Regions from separate parts of the Homo sapiens genome. Here region 2 is linked to region 1. A link means that fine-mapping ties the variant in region 1 to the expression of a gene that starts in the linked region. Tissue or cell type: skin. Region 1 holds a variant in brackets; the other region holds the start of a gene. All regions are shown on one strand. Distances are from middle to middle.

Evidence for each region. PIP is the estimated chance that this variant, and not a neighbour inherited with it, causes the effect.
Region 2: it holds the start of TMX4, and the variant in region 1 is fine-mapped to the expression of TMX4 in skin (TwinsUK, PIP 0.95).

Annotation. Positions count from the first base shown.
Region 1 is chr20:7,571,715-7,579,825 of GRCh38, reverse strand. No RefSeq gene overlaps it. Among named protein-coding and RNA genes, the nearest start is that of MIR8062, 200 kb to the right of the region's middle. The variant A/T (reference allele first, on the strand shown) is at 4,189.
Region 2 is chr20:8,015,156-8,023,266 of GRCh38, reverse strand. TMX4 (thioredoxin related transmembrane protein 4) reads left to right here and starts at 3,506. Exons shown (of 8, transcript NM_021156.4): 1 at 3,506-3,829. The coding sequence starts at 3,654. TMX4-AS1 (TMX4 antisense RNA 1) reads right to left here and starts at 3,361. Exons shown (of 7, transcript NR_184034.1): 1 at 3,163-3,361; 2 at 2,006-2,876; 3 at 1,112-1,208; 4 at 818-886; 5 at 500-710. RefSeq lists silencers at 3,506-3,745, 3,856-3,995.

The DNA.
Region 1 (8,111 bases):
GGAAGGAGAAATGGTCTGATATGAGATTACATACCGAGTCATGGTCTGTGACCTATGGTTGGCTGGATGATCAGGAAATTGAAAAAAACATGATTGATAAATTAATAACAAAAAATTGGGGGAAGAACTTTCTGTATAAACACATCTAAATGGGAAAAATCATGGAGGCATTTGTACCCCATATGAATGCTTCAAAAGAAGACATCATCAGATGATGATTTTAATAATTTAATTGACAGAATGATCCATTGTATGGATACCAGACAATTTCTTTCTCCAGACCCTTTCATGACCCAGTGAGCTCATAAAAATGTGGTTATGGTGTGAGAAATGGAGGTGATGCATGAGGTCAGCAAAATCAACTTCCACTTACCAAGGCTGACCTGGCTACAGCCACCACTGGGTATTCAATTTGCCAGTAGCAAAGAACAACATTGAGTCTTCAATATGGCACTATTCCCCAGGGAATTAGCCTGCTACCTGGTGGCAAGTTGATTACATTAGAATGCTCCCATCATGGAAGGGGCAGTGTTTTGCGTTTATTTGGATAGACATTTACTCTGGATACAAATTTCTCTTCCCTACATGCAATACTTCTGCCAAAACTACCGTCTATGAATTTTCAGACTGTCTTTTTCACTGATACATTGTCTTATTCCACACAGCATTGCTTCTAATCAATACACCCACTTCACTGCAAATGAAGTGTGGCAATGGGCCCATACTCATGGAATTCACTGGTTTTACCATGTTCCCCACCATCATGAAGCAGCTGGATTGGTAAATCTGTAGAATGATCTTTTGAAGACTCAGTTACAGTACTAGGTACATGACAATGCCTTGCTGGGCTGGGGCAAGTTCTCCAGAAGGCTATATATCTGGTCTCAATCAGCATCCAATATATGGTGTGGTTTCTCCCATAGCCAGTGTTCATGAGTCCAGGGTTGCAAGTGGGAATGGCATCACTCACTATGACCCTTAATGACCCACTTGCAAAATTTTTGCTTTCTGTTTTCATGACTTTATGATCTGCTAGCCTAAATATTTTAGTTCCAAAGGGAGGAGACATTTCCACCAGGAGACAAAACAGTGACTCTATTGAAGTGGAAGTTAAGACTCCTGTCCAGGGACTTTGGTTTCCTGCTGCCTCTAAATCAACAGGCAAAGAAGGGAGTTACTCTGCTGGCTGAGACGATTGATCCTGACTACCAAGGAGAAACTGACTACACAATGGAGGCATGGAAGAATATTTCTGGAATACAGTAGATTCTTCTGGATGCCTCTTAGTATTACCATGCCCTATGATTAAGGTCAATGGGAAACTATAGCATTGAAATCAAGGCAGGATTATTAATGTCTCAGGCCCTTGAGGACACCCTTCATCTGGAGTTTGGGTAACTCCACCAGATAAAGAACTAGATAAAGGATTTTCTGAAGGCAAAGGAAATACAGAGTGGCTAGTAGAGGAAGGCTGTTATAAATAACAGCTGTGACTGTGTGACCAGTTACAGAAAGGAGGGCTGTAGTTGTTGAACATATCCCTCTTACCTTGTTGTCAATATGTTGCATGTATTTATATGCATGTATGTCTATAAATATATATATATCTTTTCTCTCTTATTCTCTTACCATGTAACGTAAGATGTATTCACTTTTATATCATAGTATTTAAATAGCATTTGAATATTAAATACATAGTATTTAAAAAATATTTTGCATTATCGTAATGCAAATATAAGTTATGGGATATCGAAGAGAAAAGTAAATACTCAAGCACTTTATCTCCTCTTCTGAAAAAGAGGCTGGTGTGTTTTTAGTTGTATGGAGAATTGTATCAGGTGGAATTATAACCTTGTTATTGTCTTTATTTGGATATTAGGTAGGTTTAAGGAGATGAATATAGGTACCCATTTGAGAAGGAATGGACTTATGTTTTTTCCAGCTTTATTGAGGTATAATCAACAAATAGAAACTGTCTATATTAAAGGTGTACAATGTGACATTTTGATATTTGTATGCATTGTAAAATGATTACCACAACTAATCTAATTAACATATTTATCACCTCATATAGTATATTAGTTCCTCTTGCTCTGCTATACAGGAATACCTGAGACTGGGTAATTTATAAAGAAAATAAGTTTATTTGGCTCATAGTTTTGCAGGCTGTATAAAAAGTGTGGAATAGGCATCTGCTTGGCTTGTGGTGAGGGCCTCAGGAAGCTTTTACTCATGGCAGAAGGTAAAGGGAGTCAGCATGTCACATGGCAAGAGAGATTAGCAATAGGGAGAGGAGGGAGGTGCCAGGCTCTTTTCAATAATTAGATCTGCAGGTTACCTTCAGGATGGCACAAAGCCATGCATGTTGGATCCACCTCCATAACCCAAACAATCCCACCCACCAAGCCCCATCTCTGACCTTGCAGATCAAATTTCAACATGAGATTTGGAGGGAACAAATATGCAAAGTATATCACATGTTTTTTTTTTTGTGGTAAGAACATTTAACACCTACTGTACTAAAAATCATAGTCACGATGCCATACATTAGGTCTCCAGAATTTATTCATCTTGCATAACTGAAATTTTTTACTTTTTCAGACACCTCCTCATTTCTTCCATTCTCCAACCTCTGGCAACCACCAATCTACTCTCTGCTTCTATGAGTTTGACTCTTTTTGATTCCACATATATGTGAGATTATTCAGTATTTGTCTTTCTGTATGGGCTTATTTCACTTAACATAATGTCCTCTAGGTTCATCCATGTTGTCACAAATGACAGAATTTCCTACTTTTTAAAGGTTGAATAATATTCCATTTTATACTTACATATTATATGCATATTATATGTATGTATACAATGTTTTCTTTATCTGCATTTTCTTTATCCATTTATCTGTTAGTGGACACTTAGGTTGGTTCTATATTTTGGCTCTTGTGAGTGATATTGCAATGAACATGGAAGTGCAGATATCTCTTTGAGATACTGATTTTATTTTCTTTAGATATATACCCAAAAGTGGGATTGCTGGATCATATGGTAGTTCTATTTTTAATTTTTTGAGCAACCTCCACACAATTTTACATAATGGCTAAACAATTGAAATTCCCACTGACAATGCACAAGCATTTTCTTTTCTCAACATTCTTGTCAACACGTGTTATCTTTTGTCTTCTTTTTTTTACTATAGCCGTTATTTTCTTATTGATACAAAATATTTTACATATTTAACGAGTACATGTGAATATTTGTTACATGCATATAATGTGCAATGATCAAGTCAGGGTGTTTGTGTTTTCCATCACTTGGAGTATTTATTATTTCTTTATGTTGGTGGTATTTCAAGTCCTCTGTTCTAGCTACTTTGAAATACACAATACACTGTTGCTATCTGTAGTTACCATACTCTGGTATTGAATATTGGGGCTCATTTCTTCTAACTTGTATTTTTGTATCCACTAACCAACTCTTCATTCTCCCCTCCACCCACATACTCTTCTCAGCCTCTGGTACCTAACAATCCATTATCTATCTCCATGAGATAAACTTTTTTAGCTCCCACCACATATGAGTGAGAACATGTGGCTTCTGCCTTTCTGTGCCTGGCCTATTTCACTTAATATAATGACCTCCAGTTTCATCCACATTGCTACAAATGACATGGTTTTATTCTTTTTTCGTCACGTGAATAGCATACCATCGTATCTATATACAACATTTTCTTTATCAATTTATCTGTTGATGGACACTTATGTTGAGTCCACACTTTTGCTTTTGTGAATAGTGCTGCATAATTTCTCATTGTGTTTTTTTTGCATTTTTTTGATGATTTGTGTTGTTGAGTATTTTTTCATATACCTCTTGGCCATTTGGATGTTTTCTTTTGAGAAAGGTATATTCAGTCCCATTTAATATTTTCTTCCATGCTATAGGTTTTCTCTTGACTCTGTTTATTGTTTTTTTTTGATATGCAACATCTTTATAGATTGATGTAGTTCCAGTTGTCTATTTTTGGTTTTGATGCGTGTGCTTTGGGGGTCATAGCTAAAACTCATTACCTATACGAATGTCAAGAAGTCTTTTTCCCTGTTGTTTTTCTAGTAGTTTTACAGTTACAAGCCTTATGGTTACGTACTTAATTCATTTTGAGTTGGTTTTGTACAGGGTCTAATGTCATTGTTCTGC[A/T]TGTAAATATAGTTTTTCCAACACCGTATATTGAAGAAACTATCATTTTTCTATTGTGTACATCTGTTACCTTTGCCAAATTCATTTGACTTTATAATCCATGAACGTACTTCCAGGCTTTCTGTTCTTTTCCATTGGTCCCTATGTCTGTTTTTATGCTAGTATCATTTCGTTTTGATTACTGTAGCTTTGTAGTGTGTTTTGAAATCAGGTAGTGTGATGCCTCCAGTTTTATTCTTCATTCTCAAAATTGCTTTGGCTAGTCTGGGTCTTTTGTGGTCCCATATGAATGTTAAGAAATTATTTTCTACTTATGTGAAAAATCACTTTGGAATTTCATTAGGGATTGCACTGAATCTGTAGATTGTGTTGTGTAGGATGCACATTTTAATAATATTAATTTTTCCAAACCAGGAACATGACATCTCTTTATTTAATTGTGTCTTTTTCAATTTCTTACACCAGTGTCACGGTTTTCATTGTAAATCACTTTCACTTCCTTAGTTAAATATACTCCTAAGTATTTTTAAAATGTTATTGTAAATAAAATAATTCTCTTAATTTTTTAAGATAGCTTGTTTATTGTATAAAACTTTAGTGATTTTTGTATGTTGATTTTGTATCCTGCAACACTTGCGACACTACTAAATTTGTTTATTACTTTTAACAGTTTTTCGGTGGAGTAGTCAGGGTTTTATATATGTAAGATCATGTCATTTGTAAACAAAGACAGTTTTATTTGTTCCTCTCTGATTTGGATGCCTTTTATTTCTTTTTATTGATGAATAATTGCTCTGGCTAGGATTTTGAGTACTATGTTGAGTAGAAGTGATGTGAGTAAGCACCATTGTCTTGTTCCTTATTTTAGAGGAAAAGTTGTCAGCTTTCTACGGTTGACTATGATGTTATAAGTGGGCTTGTCATATATGGCCTTTATTCTGATAAACTACATTATTCCTGTATTTAATAGGTTGAGAGTTTTATCACGAAAGGATGTTGAGTTTTGTCTAATGATTTTTCTGCATCTATTGATATTTATTTTTTATCATCCATTCTTATAATATGATGTATCGCATCTGTTGATTTGCTTATATTCGAACATCCTTGCATTTTAGAGATAAAACCCACTTAATCATGATGTATAATCTTTTTTTAATGTGCCGGTGAATTTGCTTTGCTAATATTTTGTTGAGGATTTTTCCATTTAAGTTCATAAGGAATATTGACTTGTAAACATAAAATCTACCAAGACTGTATCATGAAGAATTAGAAAATATAGGTAAACCAATAATAAGTAAAGAGATTGATTCAGTAATCAAAAAGCTCTCCACAAACAAAAGCCCAGGATGTATATTCTACCAGATATCTAAGGAAAAATTAATGCCAATCATTCACAAACTCATACAATAATTGAACAGGAGGAAATTACCCAATAAATTTTATAATCAGTATTAATTACCCCAACACCAAAGTCACCAAAGATATTACAAGAAAACAAAATTATAGGCCAATATTTTAGTGATGGTTAATTTTATGTGTCAACCTGTTTGGGCCACCAGGTGTGGAAATTTTGGTCAATCATTATTCTCAGCGTGTGTATGTAGACGCTTTTGCATGTGAATAACATTTGATTTGTAAGACTGAGTAATATAGATTGGCTTTCTCAATGTGAGTTTCTCTTATTTAATCAGTCAAAAACTTGAATAGAACAAAAAGTTGACTTGGTCTTAAGAGAGAACTCTTTCTGCTTGGTGATTGAGCTAGAACATAGGTCTCTTCCTTTCTTTAGACTCAAACTAAAACATTGGCTCTTCTTGGCTCTTGAGAATGTCAGCTTTCAGGTTGGAACTTACATCATTGGCTCTCCTGATTCTCAGGCCTTCAAATTCAGGCTGGAACTGGAACTCCACTACTGGCTCTTCTAGGTCTCCAGCCTGCTTACTGAAGATCTTAATACGTCCCAGCCTCCATAATCATGTGAGCCAATTCCTTATAATAAATATATTTATATATTTATATATTATACATTACCTAAATAGATATTATACATATTATATAAATATATAAAGAGATTTATAAGATATATATGTATAAATATTATATATATATACATTATGTTTCTATAGAGAACCCTGGATATTACCTTGATTAGGCCACATTGGAGCTAGTAAGTGTCAATGTTGGGATACATCCATGTTTGTCTGATTTAATGGCTGTGCTCATATTATCTCCTGTGCCATAGTTGAGTTCTGCTTATTGAATAGTGAAGGTGGATAGAGACTCAGAGGTCCCCCATATCTCTTGCTGATGCCTCATTGCCTAAATGCTTAGTGAATCTTGTCTTGTATTTTGATTGATTTGCTGTATGAAAATTATCCCCAAATTTAGTAGTATAAAACAGCAATCATTTCATTTTGCTCACTCATTTACGGTTAAGAAATTCAGGAAAGGCTTGGCTAGGTTACTCTTTCATGGGGTCTCTCATGTGGTTGCAGTGAGCTGTCCCCTAGGGTATCAGTTGCCTGAAGCTCAACTGAATTGAACCTCCAAGATGGCTCAGTAACTTGACTGATAGTTGATTCTTGGTATTGGCTTCGGGGCTTGGCCAGACTGTCAGCCAGAGTACCAGAGACTTTCCATCACAGTAATCTCAGAGCAGTCAGACTTTCTTCATGGTGGCTGACCTCTTTCAGAGGGAGCAGACTGTTTAATCTGGTGGAAGCCACAGGGTGTTTTTGGCCTAGTCACAGAAGCCATATAATACTATGTCAACTGTGGTTTATTGATTGTAAATGCATCACTGAGTTACGACCAGATTCAAGGGAAGGAAACAGAGATCCCGCCTCTTAACAGAAGGGGTATCAAAGATTTTGTGGGCATGTTTAGAAAGTGCCATGCATTATTATTTTAGGATCTAGGTATCTCTAGATATGGCATAAGACCAGAAAATGGACTTTGAAATGAGGTCATGATTTTAACCTTCTTCCGTCATTTATTGCTCTATAGCTGTGGACAAATTAATTTAAGTATATTGGTTAGCGACCTTCTCTGAAAAAAGAGGGTGTTGATACCTACTTTGCAGCTGAAGAAAGTATATGTGCAAGTTTCTTATACTAATTAGTACTCAATTAATATTTGAATGATGGTTTTATACCTCCTTCACTTAACTCACCAATTCCTATTATTTTTAGGTATAATTTAGAGACATATCAGGATATGATTTACAATTTGATTTTTCCTTTAGAGACAGTGGATGCATTACAAACTTAATCTATGTATTAAGCCCGAAACAAAATTAACTGTGGCCCAAAGATACACATTGCTACATCATGGATCATGGCATGATCCACGCTATACCATGAATCAAATCATGGTGTATACGTCATATATCTTTTTTCATGTAAGATAGTTAAACAAGTGCAGTCACAGAACATCTCAGATCAAATCCAAATCCCTGGTTGATCTACTCTGATAAAAATTTTTTTCTTTCTAATTTAAAGCTATTTGATAAAAAGTTTCATTGTATTGGAATCCAGAGGAATCTATTACCTGGAATTCACAAAAAGAGTTTAACCAAATGAATAAATCGAATTTAAGGAGCAATGGCATGTAGAAGACAAAAGCCAGGGACTCGCATGGAGTAACACAAAATTCCCCATATGGAAGTCATTTAAGCTTCAATTTTTCACATGGTAGGGATGAAAACATTCTTCTGCTATGGAGCTTCATAAAGCACGTCAGGCATTTTCTTGCACCAGCCTTTTACACATCTGTCAATTGGAGAAGTTAACCTCTCTGCTGTTTTGATGAGAAAAAGATAAAAATCGAAGTCTTGGTGATTTTATAGGGGTGCTGGCTGCTTATGTCTTTGGCTATCTCTTCAACCCCCTTGGTGTGAAGACATCCTTGATTCAAAACAGATG
Region 2 (8,111 bases), 440 kb before region 1:
AAATGATACATACCCACCCCTTCCATTTGTAGCCCATTGGCCAATTCATATAAATATGACTAACTTCTGAGGGGTGTAGGAGCATCCTCCTCTGTGGGGCAGGGAAAGAGAGGGGGACTAGATAGGATCTACCACACTCTTCTTCCCCTCTCTCCTGCTAATGATGTTACCTCATCAGAGGCCTAGGAATTCCTTTGCCTACTAGGAACCACATATTTTTGTGTAATCATAGCTGCCCTGCAGTGCCACCATCACTCTGGGGGAAAAAGCCTTTTCTCCTAGTACCAGGTACCAATCTTCTTAAACCTGTAAATCCACGTTTTAAACATAAACATGGATCACACACTGACCTAGCATAGCATTACAGCATAACAAATTGCCCCAAATCTTAGTGGCTTGATATTATGTAACAACATTGATTACCTCACAGTTTCCGTGGGTGGAGGTCCCAGCTAAGCTAAGCTTTGCCCCCTGGTTCTGGGTCATTTATAAGGCTCACCCGTCTCAAGAGCACTGGTGACAGATTTGCTTCTAGGTCACTCATGTGGTTGTTTGAAGATCCAGTTCTTTGAGGGCTGTTGGGCTGAGGTCTCAGTTGCTTAGGCTGCAGACCTCCCTTGTCACATGGAGCTCTCCACACAGAGTCGCAGAGTGAGTGTGCAAGAGGAAAAGAAGTTTCCAGCAAAATGGAAGTCTCAGGTTTTTGTAACCTTAACAAAGAAGTGATAATCCATCAGTTTTCCCATCTTCTGTTAGAAGTGGGTCACCAGGCCCAACCCACACTCAAGAGGAAAGGATCACACAAGGGCCTGAATACCAGGAGGGAGAGATCTTGGGAGGAGTGCCAGAAGCTGTCTATCCCAAGTACATCTATGGGATGGGTATTCTGCAATACAGGGGACACAAAGATATATAAGGTAAAGCCCTTGACCTTGAAGAGTTTTTAGTAGTGGTTGGAGGAGTGAGGGTAGAGGGTGATAGCTACATATAAATGCATTATACTATGAAAGGTATGTGGTGAAGTTATTGTATTAGTCCATTTTCACGCTGCTGATAAAGACATACCCGAGACGGGGTAATTTATACAGGAAAAAGTGTTTATTCAACTCACAGTTCCTCATGGCTGGGGAAGCCTCACAATCATGGTGGAAGGCACGGAGGAGTAAGTCATGTCTTACGCGGATGGCAGCAGGCCAAAAGAGAGACAGCTTGTGCAGGGAAATTACCATTTTTAAAACCATCAGATCTCATGAGACTTATTCACTATCACGAGAACAACATGGGAAAGACCCGCCCCCATGATTCAATTATCTCCCATGGGGTCCCTCCCACAACACGTGGGAATTAGGGGAGCTACAAAATGTGATTTGGATGGGGACACAGAGCCAAACCATATCAGTTATACAGAAGAGCAATTGGATCTGAGAAGAGACAGCAGCTCATTCTGCATGAGCTATCAGAGGTACAGTGTGGACTACATGACAGAGACTGAATGATTCACTGGACAACTGGAGAAGAGTGTTCTAATCAGAATGAAGGAGCAAGGAGACACTGAAGTACACAATGTGCTTTGGGAATGGGGAGTAGCTTTGTGTTACTAGGACACAGGGAACTCTGGGAATAGTGGAATGTAAAGTGGGCAAAACTGAAGCTGGGCTGTGAGAGGCATTGTGTATCATGCTAAGTGAAGTTAACTTTAGTATAAGAAAAATAGACATTACAGCGTATTGTTGCCTCCAAATAATAATATTAGTGTTGGCAATATTGTGGCAAAAACCACAATTATGTTTGCACCAACCTAATATGTAAGCTTTTTGAGTTAGAATATGTGCTAGGCATTATTCTTATCTCATATAATCTTCACAGCCACCTTTTGGAGCAGGTTCTATTACTACCCGCATTTTAAGAGAACTTTGGTGTGGACTAGTTTTAGCCCCAAATCACATGGCTAGGAAGTGTCAGGGCTAAGATGCCAATCATGGTCTGACAGCAACAGGTCCCTTACCCTGGTCTGTGACTCCTTACGGCAAGGTCAGTCCCATACTTCCTTGCTACTTTCTTCCTACCATCCTTAGTCTGAAGGCTAAGACTTCAGTTTTTGTTAAAGATAGGAAATGCTTTGGTAATGGCTGTCTTTCATGCTGAAGATGCTCTCTCTCCTTTTAGCTTTTCATTTTGTAAATTTTCCAACATATGCATGAGTAGGTAAAGTAGCAAAATGAACTTAGCTTCAACACTGACTGATGTTGCACCACTTTTCTTTCACCTATCTTCTTTCCATTCCCTACATTTTATTTCTGGAGCATTGTAAAACAAATTCTACACATCATTCTATCATGAAAGTGATAAAATGACAGAATTCCTGTTTATGAGTCACTTCTTTTTACAAGCACAGTAAAATGTTTTCCATTGAGTTTATGGAATTGATATGTATGTACTTAATAACAGTGAGTCTTAGTAGCATTCATTGCAAAGACATTTTCTTAAATTTCAATAGTTTGTAAACCCTTGAGTGTTTTATTTTAATGATAAGGGCTAGGTCCACATAGTTTTTAGCTAATACTAATTAATGCATAATGCAGGCCAGATCTTCTCTTCAGGCAAAATTAACTTCCCTCTCCTATAAGTATTGATTGAAATTTGCTCTCATGTGCCCTGAAGTACTTTTAGTCTTATTGCTGTCTTTGTTTTAAGCCGAGGGCAGAAACCACATCCTTTTCATGGTCTATTAACCACATTACCGAGGTTCATGGTTTGCACAACTAGTAAACACATACAAAGCACCCTTTGAGAAAGCTTCCTCATCCTTTAATTGTAATCCAGTCTTATATATTAACGGTGTGGTGGTCCCAAGGTACAGATTCATCTAATGTGACCTGGAAAGAAATTTGGAAATCACTTAAGGCTACCCTCATTTTAGATCTGACAAAACTGTAGTCAAGAGAAATGTGAGGTCCATTTTACTGCAGGTGGCAATAGTCTTAATTGACTCATTTTATCGGCTAGTACCCATGTTTTTAAGAGTTTCTATGAAATTAACATTTTTTGTAAAAAAAATGCAATTGCATAGGCTAGTTTCATCAATATCCTAAATTAGTGATGCTTCAATATACACATGCAGAGTACTTAAATTTTCCTCTCTCTTCAGCAGGAGATACTCACCACGTCCCTCCATTTTTCATTAAACATACGTGTACCTTGCAGCCCGTTGCTTTTATATTTGCTATCATTGAAGAGGGGATGGATTTTAAAATTACTGGCCATGTTTCCCTTTAGAGAAGCCCACACGCGCCAACCCTGCCCTTATTGGAGCCTGGGCAGCAGCGGTGCATGTTCTAACTTAGGCAACGTTGGGTCATCTGTTTATTGTCAGCTTGGCGGTCAGGAAGAAAGGGCGGTGGTTGCTGAGGTAACCGACACCCCGGGCAACGGCAAGTGGAGGCGGGAGGGGGCGTGGCCTCGACGGGCAAGCGGCGATAAGAGGTGGCGTCCTCCGCGGCATTGCGAGCACCGCCAGTCTGCGCCGCTAGGCGTAGGCGGGGTGGCCCTTGCGTCTCCCGCTTCCTTGAAAAACCCGGCGGGCGAGCGAGGCTGCGGGCCGGCCGCTGCCCTTCCCCACACTCCCCGCCGAGAAGCCTCGCTCGGCGCCCAACATGGCGGGTGGGCGCTGCGGCCCGCAGCTAACGGCGCTCCTGGCCGCCTGGATCGCGGCTGTGGCGGCGACGGCAGGCCCCGAGGAGGCCGCGCTGCCGCCGGAGCAGAGCCGGGTCCAGCCCATGACCGCCTCCAACTGGACGCTGGTGATGGAGGGCGAGTGGATGCTGAAATTGTGAGTGTGCCCGCCCGCCCCGGACGCCGCAGTGTCCTCGCGGGCGTCACCCTCCCAAGCCCGCGCGGCCCGGTGGCGATCCCGCATTGCCGCTTGGGCTCAACCTAAAACCCCGGACCAGGCTTGCCAACAACCTGCGGCGCCGGTGCCGGGCCGCTTGCGATCCTGCACTGCCGCTGGGCTCGACCTGGGGTCCGCGGACCCGCCTTACCAACGACCTGCGGCTGTGGGGCCCGGCCGCTCGCGCCGCGCATGCGCGCCGAGCCCTCGCGGTGACAGCCGAGGGTGCAGCGCGTCCCCTTGCTTTGGGGGACAGTGTTTTCGGGGTGGAGTGGGCAGCTTCCCATAGGGAGGAGAAGGGAAGGAAGAAAATCTGCAAGCAAACCGTGTGCTTTTAGATACAGATATGTATTGGAAGAGAAAGGACATTCAGTGACATCCACGTGCAGTATGAATACGTAGCACAGGCTAAGCAAGTTACCTGTTGAAGAAATTGCAGCACGGTGAAGGCAGGCCATTTGTGTCGTAGTCTTCCGTTTGAAGACCTGGAGATGTCATTGTGAGAATAAAACATAAATATGGATGCCTTTTAAATTTTACAGTATGATTTCAAATAAATGTTGATACTTATTATAACTTGTAAAGGTAGGACTTTCTGAGTAATATTAATAATTGTGCCATAAAGAAAAGAAGATACGCATTGCCCCTTTTAACAATAGAAAGCAAATGGTGGATAGTGCCTTTTCTTTAAGGAGATGGGAAACTACAGTTTTGAGTTAGGAGAAAGAAAGGGATTTGTTGATTATAGTTTAACCTTATAATAGGAAGTGACCATTTGAAAGAGGCTTGCAGTGGATGGTGGGCAGATGTCTGAGCGGGCTTGAGAGACCATCATGGTGGGCTTGCAGACTCTCTCTCTCTCTCTCTCTCTCTCTCTCTCTCTCTCTCTCTCTCTCCCCCTCCCTCCCTCCCTCCCTCCCTCCCTCCCCCTCTCTCTCTCTCTCCTCTCTCTCTTCTCTCTCTCTCTCTCTCCCTCCCTCCCTCCCTCTCTCTCTCTCTCCTCTCTCTCCTCTCTCTCTCTCTCTCTCCCTCCTCTCTCTCTCTCTCTCTCTCTGTCTCTCTCTCCCCTCCCACAACTCCTTTCCACCCTACCTGCCCCCCTCCCGCCCCCACCCCCCAAACATAAAATCTTTCAGGAAATTGCCACATCTCTTTAGCCTGTGGTTTCTGGCAATCTGTATACTACTATTGAATCTTTGTTTTACGTTGAGGACACAGACAGAAAATTGGATCTTTCCTTTATCCAAGACCAAGTTTTGATTCTTTCAATTTAAATTGCAAGCAGGTGCCTATGGAGTGAAAACCTCAGTGTGAGATCAGAGCCAAAATTTATGTCACACAGCAGATTACATTGCTCGAAGAACATAAGGCATATCACCCCTTCAAATGTGCATTTACCTCTTAGTCACAAAGAAGGGGATATTTTAGACCTCCAAATGAAATACCCTTGGTATCATAATAAATCAATGAAATTATTAAAGGGAACTGTAGACATGAATTATTAAAATATTCCACTTAACTATTTTTGGAAGAAGGTGAGGGGGTCATATTCTATTTGAGAAACTTTTAAAATAAGTGGAGCTGTGTTAAGACTTCCATGTTTGTAATAATTTTAAGAGTTTGGGATAAACTGCATTTTGTCAGCCAATACTACAGAAAGTTCTCTTTTCAGTAGGTGCTTACAAAATGGACTTTTTCCTAGATGTCATCTTTCAGGGTAAAACTGAGTTTGCATATGTATGTAAGAAAAGTTAAAACAGAAAGGCCTCCTCATTTTTAATGACTTCAACTCCTCTATGGTTCCTTTTGGAATTGCTTTTTTTTTGGTAATAGAATTAAGAACACTAAAGCCTCAATAAGTTTTTGAGGGAGAGCCAACAACATCTGTGCTTGGCCATGTTGATGGTTCAAATTTTACTTTTTTATGAATGTATAAACCTAAACATAGTAATCAATTGCTCTGAGTTTGTCATGTGTCCAGTTGTATGGAATATGCTTGGCCTGTGATGCCAGATGAGTCTTGTAATCTGGAAGTAAGCTGTGTAGACACAAGGTCATTTTAGTAGACATTCTCTTTTTATCGAGTGCACTTCAGAATAGGTGGCTAGGAAGCAAGGCTGTCAATGAAAATTGATCCAAACCATTCCATCCAACTTCTTTATACGCACTAAAACCCAAGTGCTCATCCTGAAGAAATATTTTGGTTCTTATCTATTTGTGATCTATTTTTTTCTGTATTATCAGGTGATACTCCTCCTCCTTGCTGTGAAAAAAACTCCAGTACTTAAAAAAATATAAAATTCATTATATCCTCCATACCACTAGAGGCCTGCTATGAATTTCTAAGAATTCATTTAAATAGCCTATACGTTACCAGATTTTTTTTTTTATGTATATAACAGAGAAAAACAAAATGCATTAAAATTAGCTTCATCTTGACACTTAGTTCAGATGAGCTGGTCATACATAAATGGAAATTGTTAGTAGTTCAAAGATGTTGTAGTTAACTTCTTTAAAGAAACAGATTGAGAAGCTTTTGTTGTAGTTAACTTCTTTAAAGACACAGATTGAGAAGCTTTCCGATATCAAAATGTATTCATTACTTTGAATGAGAGTTCTTTATTTGTTCATTTGCTTATATGCGCTCTTTCATCTGGGAATTTTTTCTTTTATACGCCACGTCATACAGATCCCCTCTAATGCAGTTTCTGGTTATATTGGTATAGATAATTTATTCTTAAGAATCTAGCAGTATTTGGCAGCCCTGAGACATGAAAAGCTTCTATTATGAAATTAAATTTGGTTATTTTTTCTTAGTCTTTCAAACAGTCAATTTTTTGGATTCTTGCAATTGAATTTCCAGTGTTTTAAAAATGTATGAGTTAAAAGTATATTTGCAGTAATTCACCGTTTCTATTCTGATGATTTTAGAAATCTGAAAAGTTCTCCCATTGCTACATACATTTTCTTTAATGCTATGGGCTTATTGTTGTTATTATTATTTTTTAGATGGAGTCTCACTTTGTCGCCCAGGCTGGAGCGCAGTGGTGCGATTTCAGCTCAGTGTACCCTCTGCCTCCCGGGCTCAAGCAATTCTCCTGCCTCAGCCTCCCAAGTAGCTGGGAATACAGGCACCCGGCTATGGGCTTATTGTATACTCGTTTGCCCTTTTTCTGAATTAGGAAAAATGATCTAATCTTTAAACTACTGTATGATGCATGCTTTTCTCTATTGCCATTGTTTTATACTATTCTTCATTCAGTTCCTTTGCAACCTTTTGCTACTTTCAACATTTGCTTGGCTCTCATTATGTCAGTCCTGGAGAAAATGACTTTTGTTCTTTTGAAACATGGAAGTATGTAATATGATACATTCTGGTGGCTTTTTCCCCCAGAAGAAATAGATAGCCAAGTGGCTTAATTTTGACATTCAAGCTGATACTCAGAAGAAAAGTATGTCTTTGGGTTAGTTTACCTCTGTAAAGCATATAAATCTTTATAAATTATTGCCTTTTCTTATTTTTGTTTTTGGAATGATCATGTTTCAAAATTTAAATTAAACACCTGGTGATGGAGCAAAGCTTTGTTTATTTCCATAGGACATCTAGGTTTTAGTATTATCTTTCCAGCCTTCCTTTATACCTGGAGAGAATGTGTTGAACATCATTACCTTAACTTGCCCATGTCAAGTTAGAATTTCTTGCAGTTTAATAGATTGTCTTGATGTCTTGATGGAATGTTTGAGAGACAACTCACTAAATGCTTGTGTGTCAGGTTCAGTGTTGGGGAGCTGGGAAGGTGAAGAAGAATGAGCCTTCCAAGAGATTGTGCTCTGAAGGAAATATGTAGTATAAGTTATGTTCATTTATTTAGTAAATGTTTAATGAATGCTTCCTCTGTGTTGGACATTCATCAGTGCTTCCCAACAGGACACTATTGGCATTTTGGGTGGACAGTTCTTTGGTGTGTGGGAATGGCCCACGTGTTGCAGAACCTTTGGCATACTTGCCCATTATATTCTAGTAGTAGTCTCAGTCATGCGACATCAAAAAATTGTAACTCCCATTCCCTGTGCATACTTCCAAATGCTTCTAATTGAAAACCACTGCTCTAGATACTGTTATGGGTATTTAAAAACATGCGAATGTTTGATTTTAGATGGTTTCCACAAAGGGTTTAAAGCCTCATTAAAACTTGTCATCCTTACCACTTCCATCCACCTC